4 linked regions of the Homo sapiens genome follow. The protein of the gene in region 1 purifies or fractionates together with the protein of each later gene. This does not show direct contact. Each region holds a gene or a part of one and is shown in the gene's direction. Other genes may lie near its edges.

What was found.
Region 2: the proteins of RPRD1B (region 1) and LIN28A purify together in Homo sapiens (co-immunoprecipitation; one large-scale study listed by IntAct). This does not show direct contact.
Region 3: the proteins of RPRD1B (region 1) and CTDP1 purify together in Homo sapiens (affinity purification with mass spectrometry; 4 studies listed by BioGRID and IntAct, with this or other methods). This does not show direct contact.
Region 4: the proteins of RPRD1B (region 1) and SUPT6H purify together in Homo sapiens (affinity purification with mass spectrometry; 4 studies listed by BioGRID and IntAct, with this or other methods). This does not show direct contact.

The regions. Positions count from the first base shown.
Region 1 is NC_000020.11:38,089,246-38,092,745, forward strand, and holds the end of RPRD1B (regulation of nuclear pre-mRNA domain-containing protein 1B), read left to right. Parts: intron 1-480; coding exon 481-630; 3' UTR 631-3,119; downstream 3,120-3,500. UniProt on the Homo sapiens protein: Interacts with phosphorylated C-terminal heptapeptide repeat domain (CTD) of the largest RNA polymerase II subunit POLR2A, and participates in dephosphorylation of the CTD by RPAP2. Transcriptional regulator which enhances expression of CCND1.
Region 2 is NC_000001.11:26,424,317-26,427,816, forward strand, and holds part of LIN28A (protein lin-28 homolog A), read left to right. Parts: intron 1-986; coding exon 987-1,171; intron 1,172-1,925; coding exon 1,926-2,142; 3' UTR 2,143-3,500. UniProt on the Homo sapiens protein: RNA-binding protein that inhibits processing of pre-let-7 miRNAs and regulates translation of mRNAs that control developmental timing, pluripotency and metabolism.
Region 3 is NC_000018.10:79,710,803-79,714,302, forward strand, and holds part of CTDP1 (RNA polymerase II subunit A C-terminal domain phosphatase), read left to right. Parts: intron 1-2,169; coding exon 2,170-2,336; intron 2,337-3,500. UniProt on the Homo sapiens protein: Processively dephosphorylates 'Ser-2' and 'Ser-5' of the heptad repeats YSPTSPS in the C-terminal domain of the largest RNA polymerase II subunit. This promotes the activity of RNA polymerase II.
Region 4 is NC_000017.11:28,660,808-28,665,004, forward strand, and holds the start of SUPT6H (transcription elongation factor SPT6), read left to right. Parts: upstream 1-1,397; 5' UTR 1,398-1,535; intron 1,536-1,809; exon of another isoform or gene 1,810-1,878; intron 1,879-4,197. Other genes in the region: SDF2 (stromal cell-derived factor 2), read right to left, coding at 919-1,069.

The DNA.
Region 1 (3,500 bases):
TTTTGAGCTTCTATAGTGCTTGTTTGCAAAACATGATAAATTTAGGTTAATCTCCAAGCTTTAACATAGGAAGTATAACTTCAGTGTTTTTTTTCTTGCCATATCTAGGTGGAGTCCGCAAAGAAATTGTGAGGCTCAGGTGTCTGTTTTATTTTATAAAGCATTTTGAAACTTTTGAGAACCAACAAAAAGAGAATGCAAATACCAAGTGTTATTTCTTTCTACTTCCAAATCTCAAGCCCTAAATTGAATACCATTTAATTCACTGTTGCCAATATGGCACTCTGCGTTCCTTTTTTGATAGAAAGTTTTGCCTTTTGAGCATTTGAAGCCCTAGCTTTGTGATATAGCTGAACAGGGTGGGCAGGCTGGTGGGGACAAGGAAGAACACGAGGACGAGAGTAGCTGCCCGGCTCCAGCAGCACCCATGCCCTCGGCACGCACAGACTTAACGGTATTGTCTTCTCTTTATCTCCTTAGGAATACAAACAGAAGCTTGCACGAGTAACCCAGGTCCGCAAGGAACTGAAATCCCATATTCAGAGCTTGCCAGACCTCTCACTGCTGCCCAACGTCACAGGGGGCTTAGCCCCCCTGCCCTCTGCTGGGGACCTGTTTTCAACTGACTAGGATGGGTGTCATGTCCCAGATTTCTGTTTGTACCAGCAGAAAGAAGAGGGCAAGTCATGGTTGGAAATAACCTTCTAGCCCCTGGTTCTATCCCTTCTTCCGCCCAGCCCCCCAGCCTCAAGAAAGAACCTCAGACTCTGATTCTCCTCTTCAGCCTCTCATCTTGAGCACAGTTCAGAACAGTGGCGACTGGAATCTGGTTTATATTCATATTTGCAAAGACTACAGACTTTTTCTCCCACTTCATATTTTCATGCCCCCCTGTTGGTTTTCCATTCTTAACTGTCTCCTTATACCTAAGAAGTTATGAAAATCATGTGTACTTCTGGAAGCTTTCGAAAGAATCTTGTCCCTCATGACAGCATTTTATCATGAAAGCAGCTTCTCCTTTCTGGGCTGGGCTTGTTCAAGTTCGGTGTGGGCTTCCACTAAGGCACTTGTCCTGGAGACGTTGGCTTTCCCAGCTGCATCTGCCCCAAAAGGTTGTAGGCACAGCTGTCGTAGCGTTGCCATAAAGAGTTTGCCAAATCTCTGATCCTCCCTTTCCATTGCTTCTCCTAGTGATGCACGAAGATTAGGTGCATTTATTTTGTAAACAGATTGGAGAATCTAGCAATAAGATTCAAAGCTAATCTGGAGCATAAAGGCACAGTTCAGAGACAGAATAACAGGGATCACAAGCATGAATTAAAAGGAATTTATTTGCTTCAAGTTCCTAGATACAACCTTCCCATGCTGCACTTCTCCACTGTCGGAGCACGTTCCGAAAAACAGAATGCCTTGATCCCTGGTGGGTGCGAAGGCAGTTGTTAGGGATGGCAGGCATTGGTGGGCTCCAAAAGATGAAGGCCCCACACACAGGTGTGCTGCATTTGGGATCTGTGTGGGTGTTTCTTGGACCCTTTCTTCTGGGAGTAGGGTACACACTAACGTTTAATCCGCTGTCTGGGTGCATGTCCACAGTACGGTGGCTAAACTCGAACATCACTGCAAATAGGACGCTGAGCAGGTCCGTCTGTCATGTCACGCCACTGCACAGGTCCTTGTCCCCACACGACGGGGAGTACTTGCGTCAGATGTTATTGAATAGCTCGTCTCGGGCAGGGGAAGCGGGGAGTTGGGGATATTAATTGGGGGTTTTAATTCTATTATCATGTCAGCTGACATTATGACTATATAATGTAGTTAGAGACAATTTTTATCTTGCTTATAGTAAAGGTTCAGCCTGCCAATTGTAAATCATTCTAATTTGGCAGGCTTATTTTTGACATTGGAAAGGGCAGAAAGCGATTTGCCCCAGTAGTGTAATAGGAGTTATAGACCAGAGGCTGAAACCCAAACTATATAAAAAGGAATTCAGTGGAGGGGGCTTTGTAATCTCCATTAATTTGTGTTGCTACTTCCAGGATCACCAAAAATTACATGTAATTTTACATGTTAAACACATTGAAACATAACCTATGTTTATAAAGCATAACGGGCTTCCCTTCCAGAAGCTCTCCTGCTTGTCATGAAGTGAGAACAATGAAAAGTCATAGCAGATACTCAGTTTAACTCTGTGTAGAACCTAGTAGTGTTTGAGCTGTTATTCAGATTTGAATTCAGACTGTGTGTTGTTTGCTTATGGACACTGCCTGTCGTTCTGTCACTGTTAAATTAATGAGTCTATAAGGTTTTTCTTCCAGAGGCCATAGGTGACATCACTAAAATTGCAAGATAAATTGTAATCTTTGCTGCTGCTGCACTCCCCAACCTCTCCCCCACCCCCCGTGGTGTGCTGCTTTCTAGATGAGCGTGTTTTGGAGCAGGCCCATCTGGGACACTCTATGCTTTCACCAAGGAAGTGCGATCTGAGCAGCCACAATCCAGCCAAAAGAGGATCGTAGATATTTGCTCTGATCAACTAGATGAAAATATAGCAGAATGGATTTAGCCCACTGCTCTGTTTTATCCAACTGAGTCTCTGACCAGCAATTGGTGCATAATTATTACAGCAAAAGTTAAGAAATGAAACTGTAGCAATTATGTAAATGAATGTGTTGGCCTCTTAATACCTGTTACTAGTGGACTTCCTGTGAGGAAGTTAGTTTTTTGTTTTGATGAAATGCTTTCGTTTTTTAAATCTTAATTCTGCTGTCCACATCCTCCCAAAGTGTGCTTACTTCATTTGTTTAATTTAAATGAACTTTCCTCCTTGTATGTATGAGGTGACTTGGTGGGTGGGGTGGGTGGTTTTTGTTTTTGTGTTTTTTCTTTCTTAGGGCATCTGTAGGCCTCAAAGGACCTTTCCTTTAGGTCATATTCCTCAGAAAGTCTTCAATCTTCCCTTGTTTTTGTTTGTTTGTTTTTCTTAAAGAATATTTTCAAAGCTTAAATTTGTATATTAATTTAGGACTATTTAGAAGTATAGGCTGTCGTTGGCGGCAGCAGTATATTCTGAAATGTCTCATAGATATATATTTTTGAATAAAGATGGTGTTGTTGAACAACATTGTGTGATTTTTTTTTTAAACTACCCTGTTACTGAAAACAGTGCCTTTCTTTGTAAGCAGTGGGTGATTAGTAATCACCAATAGAGAATGTGCTGTCGGCACAGAATCTTGTCCCTTGGGAGTTTTTGTGTCTGTTAGCGGCACATAAATACTCAGCATTTACGTAGTATTTTCTGGTTCTTTCCAGGGGCTTAATTAGCTTTAATTAGGCAGTCCACACAGTACCCATGAGAGGTGCCGCCATAGTTTTACCCTCATTGTACAGAAGTGGGAACTGATGGAGAGAGATTAAATGACTCTTCCCCCATACTTCACAGCCAATCTCTGACAGATTAAAACTTGGAAGTTCTTTGATTTTAGCGCCTTTGTTCACACCAG
Region 2 (3,500 bases), on another chromosome or scaffold:
CTGAAACCTCTGCCTCCGGGGTTCAAGCAACTCTCCTGCCCCAACTGCCCAAGTAGCTGGGATTACAGGCGCCCACCACCACACCCGGCTAATTTTTGTATTTTTAGTAGAGACAGGGTTTCACCATGTTGGCCAGGCTGGTCTCGAACTCTGGACCTCGTGATCCACCTGCTTCAGCCTCCCAAAGTGCTGGGGTTAAAGGCGTAAGCCACCGTGTGTGGCTGAGCCACCATGCCCAGCTATTTTTACTTTTATTTTATTTATTTATTTTTGAGACGAAGTCTTGCTGTGTTGCCCAGGCTGGAGTGCAAAGGCGCCATCTTGGCTCACTGCAACCTCTATAGTGTGACACTTTAAATTTCGTAATTTTATATTTGTTGATTTCTTCCAAATGCTTGTATTTACAAATTTTTCTGTTTGTTGTTGTTTGTTTGTTTGTTTTTGAGACAAAGTCTCACTCTGTCGCCCAGGCTGGAGTGCAATAGTGTGATCTCAGCTCACTGCAACCTTTGCTTCCTGGGTTCAAGCAATTCTCCTGCCTCAGTCTCCCAAGTAGCTGGGATTACAGGTGCCCGCCACCACGCCCAGCTAATTTTTTTTATTTTTAGTAGAGACAGAGTTTCACCATGTTGGCCAAGCTGGTCTCGAACTCCTGACTTCAGGTGATCCTCCCGCCTCAGCCTCTCAAAGTGCTAGGATTATAGGTGTGAGCCACCGTACCCGGCCCTCTGTTCTATTTTATTAAGAACTTTAAACCTGAATAGCTACAAAAATGTCATGGCATCTGCTTATATAATTACGATTTTTGTTAATGTACTGGTAGACTTTGTTGTTCTTAATCGTAGTGACTCTTTGAGTCAGTTTCCTTACCAGTAAAATAGGAGTACCATCACATTTGATTCCTACCCTACAGGAATAAGAGTTCCTTGTCTTTTGGTATAATAATGGAAATTAATGTTAAAATTTACTGCATTTCCCTTCACCAGAGTAAGCTGCACATGGAAGGGTTCCGGAGCTTGAAGGAGGGTGAGGCAGTGGAGTTCACCTTTAAGAAGTCAGCCAAGGGTCTGGAATCCATCCGTGTCACCGGACCTGGTGGAGTATTCTGTATTGGGAGTGAGAGGCGGCCAAAAGGAAAGAGCATGCAGAAGCGCAGATCAAAAGGAGACAGGTATGGATTGGAAGGCAGCTTATATAGGTTGCTAAGGGCATCCCCAGTCTCCCAATCCTGTCACTTTTTGGGTCACACTGCAAAAGACAAAGGGAAGCCTGTGGTCCCTGGCAGCATCTGGAAGGCTGAGCGCCTGCAATAGGTGTGGGCAAGGGCAGTAGGTGAGGAGGCCACTGGGGGTGACTTAGTGCTACTTGGGACAAGTAAGTTTGCTCTGTGGTCTCTAAGCCTCAATTGTTAAGTGAGGCAGTGATACTAACATCCTAGGATGGTTTTAGAATTAAAGGAGATCATAGATTTGCAAATGGTGGGACAAGACAGTATTATCTATATCTGTTGCTGCTTTACCAGGTCTGCAAATGGCTGGTTTCCTTAATCTTGCTTGGGCTTAAAGCCCCTTAGCTCTGAACAGATACTATAATTTGGCTTCTTTAATTTCTCCTATATTAAGGGTATGGAAGAATCTCTCCTATCCCCCAAGTTGCAGTTCCTAGTTGGGGTCAGTAACTTATATTTCTGGTATCTTGGTATTTTCAAGTTGACATGAATCTGAAGAGATCACCTAGACAATTAGATGTGGAAAGGACTTAGAGATCATTTAGTAATAGTCCTCCTTTTGCAAGTGGGAAGTTTGGTCTCTGGGAAGGGAAGTAAGTGACAAACCTGTACCAGAGCCCAGGTGTCCTCATTCGTGGGAGGCATCTGGCCTCTTCTTGCTCCTTTCTCTTACTTTTACGATCTTGCTTTGTACTAGGTGCTACAACTGTGGAGGTCTAGATCATCATGCCAAGGAATGCAAGCTGCCACCCCAGCCCAAGAAGTGCCACTTCTGCCAGAGCATCAGCCATATGGTAGCCTCATGTCCGCTGAAGGCCCAGCAGGGCCCTAGTGCACAGGGAAAGCCAACCTACTTTCGAGAGGAAGAAGAAGAAATCCACAGCCCTACCCTGCTCCCGGAGGCACAGAATTGAGCCACAATGGGTGGGGGCTATTCTTTTGCTATCAGGAAGTTTTGAGGAGCAGGCAGAGTGGAGAAAGTGGGAATAGGGTGCATTGGGGCTAGTTGGCACTGCCATGTATCTCAGGCTTGGGTTCACACCATCACCCTTTCTTCCCTCTAGGTGGGGGGAAAGGGTGAGTCAAAGGAACTCCAACCATGCTCTGTCCAAATGCAAGTGAGGGTTCTGGGGGCAACCAGGAGGGGGGAATCACCCTACAACCTGCATACTTTGAGTCTCCATCCCCAGAATTTCCAGCTTTTGAAAGTGGCCTGGATAGGGAAGTTGTTTTCCTTTTAAAGAAGGATATATAATAATTCCCATGCCAGAGTGAAATGATTAAGTATAAGACCAGATTCATGGAGCCAAGCCACTACATTCTGTGGAAGGAGATCTCTCAGGAGTAAGCATTGTTTTTTTTTCACATCTTGTATCCTCATACCCACTTTTGGGATAGGGTGCTGGCAGCTGTCCCAAGCAATGGGTAATGATGATGGCAAAAAGGGTGTTTGGGGGAACAGCTGCAGACCTGCTGCTCTATGCTCACCCCCGCCCCATTCTGGGCCAATGTGATTTTATTTATTTGCTCCCTTGGATACTGCACCTTGGGTCCCACTTTCTCCAGGATGCCAACTGCACTAGCTGTGTGCGAATGACGTATCTTGTGCATTTTAACTTTTTTTCCTTAATATAAATATTCTGGTTTTGTATTTTTGTATATTTTAATCTAAGGCCCTCATTTCCTGCACTGTGTTCTCAGGTACATGAGCAATCTCAGGGATAGCCAGCAGCAGCTCCAGGTCTGCGCAGCAGGAATTACTTTTTGTTGTTTTTGCCACCGTGGAGAGCAACTATTTGGAGTGCACAGCCTATTGAACTACCTCATTTTTGCCAATAAGAGCTGGCTTTTCTGCCATAGTGTCCTCTTGAAACCCCCTCTGCCTTGAAAATGTTTTATGGGAGACTAGGTTTTAACTGGGTGGCCCCATGACTTGATTGCCTTCTACTGGAAGATTGGGAATTAGTCTAAACAGGAAATGGTGGTACACAGAGGCTAGGAGAGGCTGGGCCCGGTGAAAAGGCCAGAGAGCAAGCCAAGATTAGGTGAGGGTTGTCTAATCCTATGGCACAGGACGTGCTTTACATCTCCAGATCTGTTCTTCACCAGATTAGGTTAGGCCTACCATGTGCCACAGGGTGTGTGTGTGTTTGTAAAACTAGAGTTGCTAAGGATAAGTTTAAAGACCAATACCCCTGTACTTAATCCTGTGCTGTCGAGGGATGGATATATGAAGTAAGGTGAGATCCTTAACCTTTCAAAATTTTCGGGT
Region 3 (3,500 bases), on another chromosome or scaffold:
CCCAAAGTGTTGGGATTACAGGCATGAGCCACTGCACCCGGCCTAGAGCAGTATTTCTGTATTGATGTTTTTTAGGAATTTAACATCCCCTTTCCAGTTTTCATTGTTAGCCTCAGAATACTTAGAAAGTTCCTTTCTAACCTGTACTCCCACTGTCTCCCAGGTGCCTGAGCCCTGGTGCTTGTGCAGGGCCCCCAATCCAGGCTCTGCCCCATCCCAATAGCCCTGTCCTGCCCTGAAACTGCCCTTGAGCTGGGCTTTTGTGTCTGTGGAGGCGGGGACTGTCATCCTCTCTGCCTCGTCTCTGTTAGACAGCACAATTCGATGTCAGCCCGCCACCTGACGTTGTGTATCTGTCATCCTCTCTGCCTCATCTCTGTCAGACGGCACTGATTCGATGTCAGCCCGCCACCTGACGTTGTGTATCTGTTTGCTTAACCAACCCTGGCATATGTGATCATTCTAGTCCCTTGACCTCCAAATTTTCATTCCTATGCGAAGACCTGGCATCGAGATTTGTGGTTGGAGAGGCAGGAGGCAGGCGTGTGTCCCCACAGTAGCCAGCTGTGAAGGATTTGGCCCTTTTGCCTCTGAGTATCCAGGGAATGGCCAGGGCTCCTGGGGAACTCAGCGACTGGACTTTCGGGCCCAGAACCCAGGAGGGCAGGCGTAGGGACGGGATGGCATCAGGGAGGTGGCAGTCGAAAGGACCCGAGTGGGCAGAGGAATGTGAATAGCCCCACCCCACGCACAAGCTCAGCAGCTCTGCGGGGCCACTGGTTTAGCGGCAGTTCTTGACATCAGCGTCAGCATCTGAGGTTGATAATTTTCTTAGGAGCTTGCTTGTGTTAATCCTACTAATAATTTACAAAATCCTAAGTCACTTGACTATTATGCCCATATTTTTGCCTTTTGCCATTTCTTCCTTTCCATCAGCTCCAGAGCCCCTTCCTGTCAGCTCCTCTGAGCCTTTTTGACAGGGCAGGCCGCTCCCCGCCCCTCCGCAAAGACTTTTTAATATTCTTTTATATGCTTTGACGTTTCTTGCCCACTGTATTCGAGGAGTTTCCCCATTTCCACCCGGAAGTCCGTCCTTGCTGATGTAACACCATGTCAGGTGTGGCTTGTTTTCCCGAGGAGCCTGGTGGCCACAGCCTCAGCTTCAGCCACTTCCTGGTTCTCGGTGGCCAGTCCCCACAGACTGTGAGACCTATGCTTGCTAATGTTAACTAAGAAGAGAATCTGAAAGTATTTACTTCAGAAACCTCCTTTTTGCTAGTTAGCGCCAGAGTGAGTAGATTAATCAGGGCAAAAGAGAATGAGAGGTGCTGTTAGTGTGTTACAGGGAAAAGTCACCCGAAGGCAGAATGATAGGATCGAATGGGGACATGCCCAGGATAGGCCCCAGTGGTGGGTACTGTGGTTTGCATGGAGGTAGCTGGAGGTCCGCTTAGAAATTCTGCATCAGCACTGGGTCTGGTTTTTGTTTTTTTGTTTTTGAGACGGTCTGGCTCGGTCGCCCAGGCTTAAGTGCAGTAGTGTGGTCTCAGCTCACCACAGTCTTGACTTCCTGGGCTCAAGCTATCCTCCCACTTCAGCCTTCTGAGTAGCCGGGACTACGGGCGCACACCCCCACACCTGTCTAACTTTTGTATGTTTTGTAGAGACAGGGTCTTCCTATGTTGCCCAGGCTGGTGTCAGACTCCTAGGCTCAAGAGACCCTCCTGCCAAGACCTCCCGAAGTGCTGGAATTGCAGGCATTAGCCACACAGCGCCTAGCCTGGTCTGTTTACAGAGTCAGCAAATTCTGGCCTTTAGGCTACCCAGCCTTGTTTGTACATGAAGTTTTATTGAAACATGGTCACGCCCACACGGTCAGAGTTGGGTTTCGTCCCCGTGGCCCGTAATGCCTAAAATAGTGACTCTGGCGCTTTAAGAAACAGTTTGGGAACTCCTGCCTGAAGGAGAATCGGAAACAGCACTGAAGATGTTACTGAGGTTTAAATGCGACCCAAACAGAAAGGGCTTCGGGGCGGTTGGTGTCCGTCTGATTAACCTGCTGTCTGCTGGTTACATGTGGATTAGAATCTTAAACTGTTACGCTTGGCAAGATGAATGACTACAACTTTTCATTATTATTTTTTGTAAATTATGCATTTTCACTTGTAGAAATCTCTTTCCTTGTGGAGACTCAATGGTTTGCATTATTGATGATCGAGAAGATGTCTGGAAGTTTGCCCCCAATCTGATAACTGTGAAGAAATATGTATACTTCCAGGGCACGGGTGATATGAATGCGCCCCCTGGGTCCCGAGAATCTCAGACGAGAAAGAAAGGTGGGTAACCTCCTTCCTGATTCTCTAGAAGAATTCACATTTGCTTATTGTTTAGCTCTTCTTATTTCTTATCTCTGTTTTGACTGCTATAAATTCAAGATACACTTTTTTTATTTGTGTTTCAGTAGAGATTATTGGATTTATTTATAGAGTACTGAAAAACAGGATATTAGGTTGTTTCAATTTGGGCTTTAAAAAAAATGGCCCTCACTTAAGCGTTTTCCCAGTTGAATAAAAACTAGAGGATGCTGTTTAACCTAACACATCCGAATAACTCCCTTCATCCCAGTTTTCCTTAAACACATCCCTGGGTATTGGGCCATAGTGTTCTGTAGAGAGAGTGAATGTGGGGGCGGTGGCTCTGCGGGGAATAACCGTTCCCCATGCGCAGTGGTCAGGCTGGGCGCTGGCTGGGGCCCCAGAGAGCAGCGTGGTTTAACTTGTCAGTCAGGCATGCAGCTGACGTCCACCCTACGAAAGTTAAGTGTTTTTTGATCTTTAGTTTTTTGAAAAATATTTTGAGGCACACGTTTATTGCTGTAGTCACTAAAATGGAACTTGGAGGTTAGGACCAGGGGAGGGTGAAACTAGGGGCATTCCTGTAGAAGGTAGAGACTTTCACCAGATGGGTGGGGTCAGCGTGGAGTTGCTGACTTCCTCCAGACCGTGGCTTGGGAAACCGTGGCCATGGTGGTGCCAGGTCATCCGGGGCTTACAGTCACGGTGGCGCCAGGTCTGCAGGGGCTTACGGCCACGGTGGCGCCAGGTCTGCAGGGGCTTACGGCCACGGTGGCGCCAGGTCTGCAGGGGCTTACGGCCACGGTGGCGCCAGGTCTGCAGGGGCTTACGGCCACGGTGGTGCCAGGTCTGCAGGGGCTTACGGCCACGGTGGCGCCAGGTCGTCAGGGGCTTACGGCCACGGTGGCGCCAGGTCTGCAGGGGCTTACGGTCACGGTGGCGCCAGGTCTGCAGCCCGGAAACCTCTAGTTGTCCTTACAGGTGGAGGATCCCTCCTCCCCCAAATCCAAAGCTTTTTGAGTGCCCACATGGTGCTTAAAGGAAATACTCATTAGGGTATTTTGGATTTTTTGGATTGGGGATGTTCAGCTGGTAAGTTTAACGCAAATACTCCAAACTCAGAAAAAAATTCAATATCCAAAACGT
Region 4 (4,197 bases), on another chromosome or scaffold:
GTCATTCAAGACAAAAATCTACCAGCTATCTTAGATGCCTCTCACATCTCACTAGCTGACCTTCATTCTTTTTTTTTAACTTTATCTTTTTTTTTCAGGCAGATAAGACTTTCTTTTTTTAGTCTGTTTTTATTATATTGTAATTTTCTTGACTGATTATCACCACCGAATCTCCTGTATGTAGTACAATTCTAGCCATGTAGTAGGAACTCATTAAGACCTATGCTGAATGAATCCACAAATAATTTATTACTAAACATTTTAATTTCAAACGCTAAAAAAAAAAAAAAAAAAAAGCAGTTTTCTCTGCAATTCCTGTCACTGCTCCAAGTTTCTTACAAGAAGGAGGTTAAGGTTTGGGTAGAAGGGGGCCAAAGATGGAAACTGAGGAGCAAGTGTAAGATGCAGAAGAGCTGGAAGACAAAGGGTTGTAGTCAACGAGTGAGCTCTTGGAGTTTAAAGTTTCACAGACAGTACTTACTGTAACTTTAAAATTTCAGACACAGCACTTACTGTAATTTTCTTGTCTCTAAAGCAGGCTTTGAACCTGGATAGATTTGGATAGAACCCCGACTTTGTCATTTGCTAACTGCAAGGCTTTGAATAAACGATTTAATTTCTCTGCGTCTGTTTCCTCATCTGTGAAATGAGGATAACAATACTGTCCACCTTACAACAATGTTAATAATCGGAAAAAGGACATAGGTAACGTGCCTGGCCTGTAGCTCACCAAATATTAGGTGGTGTTGCGATTAAGATGCCTTAGAACAATTCAGTTCTCCGACTCTCTAGACCTGAGGAACCTTCCCAGGGAACCCCTAACTTTCCCAGACCACACTGTCAGATATTCTATAGGCCCCGCCCCTCCAGAGCCTCCGAGTCCTCCCTAGCCCACCCGAGCCCGGTCCCCAGCATTACCTGACCCATAGCGCACGTCGTGTGAGTGCAGTCGGACGTTGTGGCGCGTATTGAGTAGCTTCACCACGGAGCCGCAAGTAACGACACCCAGGCTGGACGCTCCCACAGCGCTCCACAAACCCCCCAACAACAGCAGAGGTACTACAGCCATCCTAACTGTATCGCGGAGCCCCAAATCTTCGAAGAAAACTCGGCCCCTCCCCGGAACCGGAAGCTAATGGCGAAACCACGGAGAGAAGGAAGTGAAGAAGCCCGAGTCTGATCTTTATGGTTTATTTGACTAGAGCGGCCTGAGAAACCGGCTGAGCCTGGTTACTTACGATACTCTCGCTCTGTTCCAGGGGCTCAGTGACAGCTGCCTTCCTGAGCCGCTTCGGTTACCTTTCGCACCCACGAGACGAAAGCTTCCGAGAGCGGGAGAGAGAACAAGAAATGGCCCGCCCACTCCCGGTGACAGGGAGCCGGAAATGACGTAGCACGTTGACGCAGCAGCGGCGGCGGTGGCGGCGGAGGGGCCGTGCGGTGGGTCCGTACTATCTTTTCCCAGTCTCGGTTCGACGACTCCATTTTCCTCGGTGGGGGCTTAGCGCACTGGAGGAGCGGCGGGCTTCAGACAGGTAAAGTTCCGACTGGAGAGCGTGTTTCTCGCAGGAGTCAGGTGGGGAACCGGGCTCCTAGGGCCTGGTCACGTAAGGGAAGAGGCAGTGGGGAGCCGTATGCGGGAAGAAGGGGGAGCCTGGCCTTCCCTGCTCTATGGGGGGAAGGGGGAGGAAAGCGCTGTAGTTGCTCAGAGTCCGAAAGCTTTTCCCAGCCCAGTGACACCCGGAACCCGTGAATCGGGTGGCACGTTGAATCAACAGGCTTCCTGGCATCCCGTCCTTCTCTCCGCAGGTTTTTAAAACTGGGCCACGCAAAAGGATTGGGGATGGAAGGGACCTGGGGCTTCTGAGCCAGGATCAGGTGATCGAGTTGTTTGTTCTGGGGATATGAATCCTGTGGAGCTTTCAGCAGCTCGGCCATCAGGCTAGAGGGCGATGCCAAATTCCAGCTCTTTACATATTGCTGAATAATACAAATAGAACTTTTTGTAGATGGTTGCATCCTTCATCCCTTTCTAAAGATCGAAGGTCTTGTAGAAGTCCTAAAGCCCGTCCATTCTCTATAGATTCATTTCCTCAAACGTTTGCCAGAGGCCTATCATGAACATCAAAATTAGTTATTAAGTCAAAACTCCATCTTCTAGTTTCTACCTTTCTCCTCAGGCACTCCTTTGAACCAGCTGGAGAAGTTAATTTTCCTGGGTTGTTGCAAGAACTGATACTTATTTCAGAGGGCTAAGATCTCTGAAAATACTTCCGTGGAAATTCACTGTAATATCAAAAGTAACAAGGGTGTATGAAGCTACATCATTAATGAGCATTAGGGAGTGTAAACAATATTGAATTTGATTAATTTCTTCGGAAAAATGTCTGGTTCCACTGTTTATCTGGAAGTTACCAGTTTGTAAGTCTTCAGTGTTTTGATTACAGAAACATAACTGCTCTTCCATCAGCTGTGAATTTAGAGCCCTTTTTTACGAGTAATGTCCCTTTCACCAGTACAAGTACATTTTTATTCACTTGGCTTGTGTGGCTGCTAGATTGGATTAGCATAGCCTTGCAACTCTAGGAGGTTTTAACTTCATCAGGAGATTAATTACATCAGAAAGTGGTACCGTCTGGAGAGGCTTAGTCAAATTTTACAGTTCTTCCTCTGAAAGCCTACCTAGTGTGGTGGAAACATGATCTTTGTAGGCAAATACGTTTGCCCTGATTCTATATTCTTGACCTTAATAAATGGCACTACCATCAGTCCTGCCTGTAATCCTTGTCTTCCTTCCTGTCCACTATTTCCCAATAAAATCAGTCACCAAATCCTGTCTCTCCCTGAAACTGTTCCCATCAGCATACAAATTATGTTCTGGTATCCTTCACATCCCTCTCCAATTACCATGCCAATTTTTTAAATTTCCATTCATAGATTTCTACCTGTACCAACTCAGCTTTCTCAACTTTCATTCACTCTTCATTTTATACCAATCTGGCTTCTCTTCTGCCCACTCCATTTTTTTTTTTTTTTTTGTGGAGACAGGGTCTTGCTCTGTTGCCCAGGTTGGAGTGCAGTGGCCCCATCATAGCTCACTGCCACCTGGAACTCCTGAGCTCAAGCAGTCCTCCTGAGGCAGCTTCTAGTAATCAAGTGCCACCACATCTACTTTGCCCACTCCATTGAAGTTGCTCTTATCAAGGTCACCAGTGACTTCTATGTTGCCAAATCCAATGGATACTTTGTTCTCATATTCCTCTGTCTCTGCAATATTCAACATAGTTACTCCTGCCTCCAAACTTTCATCTTGGCTTTATTGACATTTCACTCTTGGATTTTCTCCATTTCTCCGGCTGTTCCTTCTGAGTCTCATTTGCTAGCAACTTTTGCTCTCTATCTAATGTCTAAATGCTGGGGCTGGTCGCAGTGGCTCATGCCTATAATCCCAGCACTTTGGGAGGTCGAGGTGGGCAGATCACTTGAGGTCAGGAGTTCACAACCAGCCTGGCCAGCATGGTGAAACCCCATCTCTACTAAAAATACAAAAACTAGCCGGGCGTGGCGACACGCCTGTAATCCCAGCTACTTGGGAGGCTGAGGCAGGAGAATCACTTGAACCAGGGAGGCAGAGGTGCAGTGAGCAGAGATCATGCCACTGCACTCCAGCATGGGCAACAGAACAAAACTCCGTCTCAAAATATATGTATATCTACATATGTTGGAATTCTCACAGGAATCCCGAGCCTTCTACATGCTTCCCTTTAGGTAACCCAGCCCCATGGCTTTAATTACCACCTGAAAGTTGGCAACTCCAAAGTTTAAATCTCTAGTCCAGCCCTCTCCTCTATGTTGCAGAATCACGCGTCAAAAATGCCTGTTTAATTATCTCCATTTGGATATTTCTTAGGCACCCAAAGCTAACATAACCAAAAGAAAGTTTTGGTTTTCTCATCATTGCAAACCTTATCCTCCCGTTTCACTGAGTGGTGCTCCTATCCGCAGGGTTACCAAAGATAGACCTCTGAGAATCATCTTTGTTCTTCTCCTTTACTACTCCTCTTCCCCAGTCTTTCAGTAAGTCTTGTCACTTCCACTTGCAGAATGTTTTTGTAATCTGTCTTCTATTCTCCATCTTCACTTTTACCACCTTATTCCAAGCCACCACCATCTTTTGCCTGGGCTACCACAACAGTA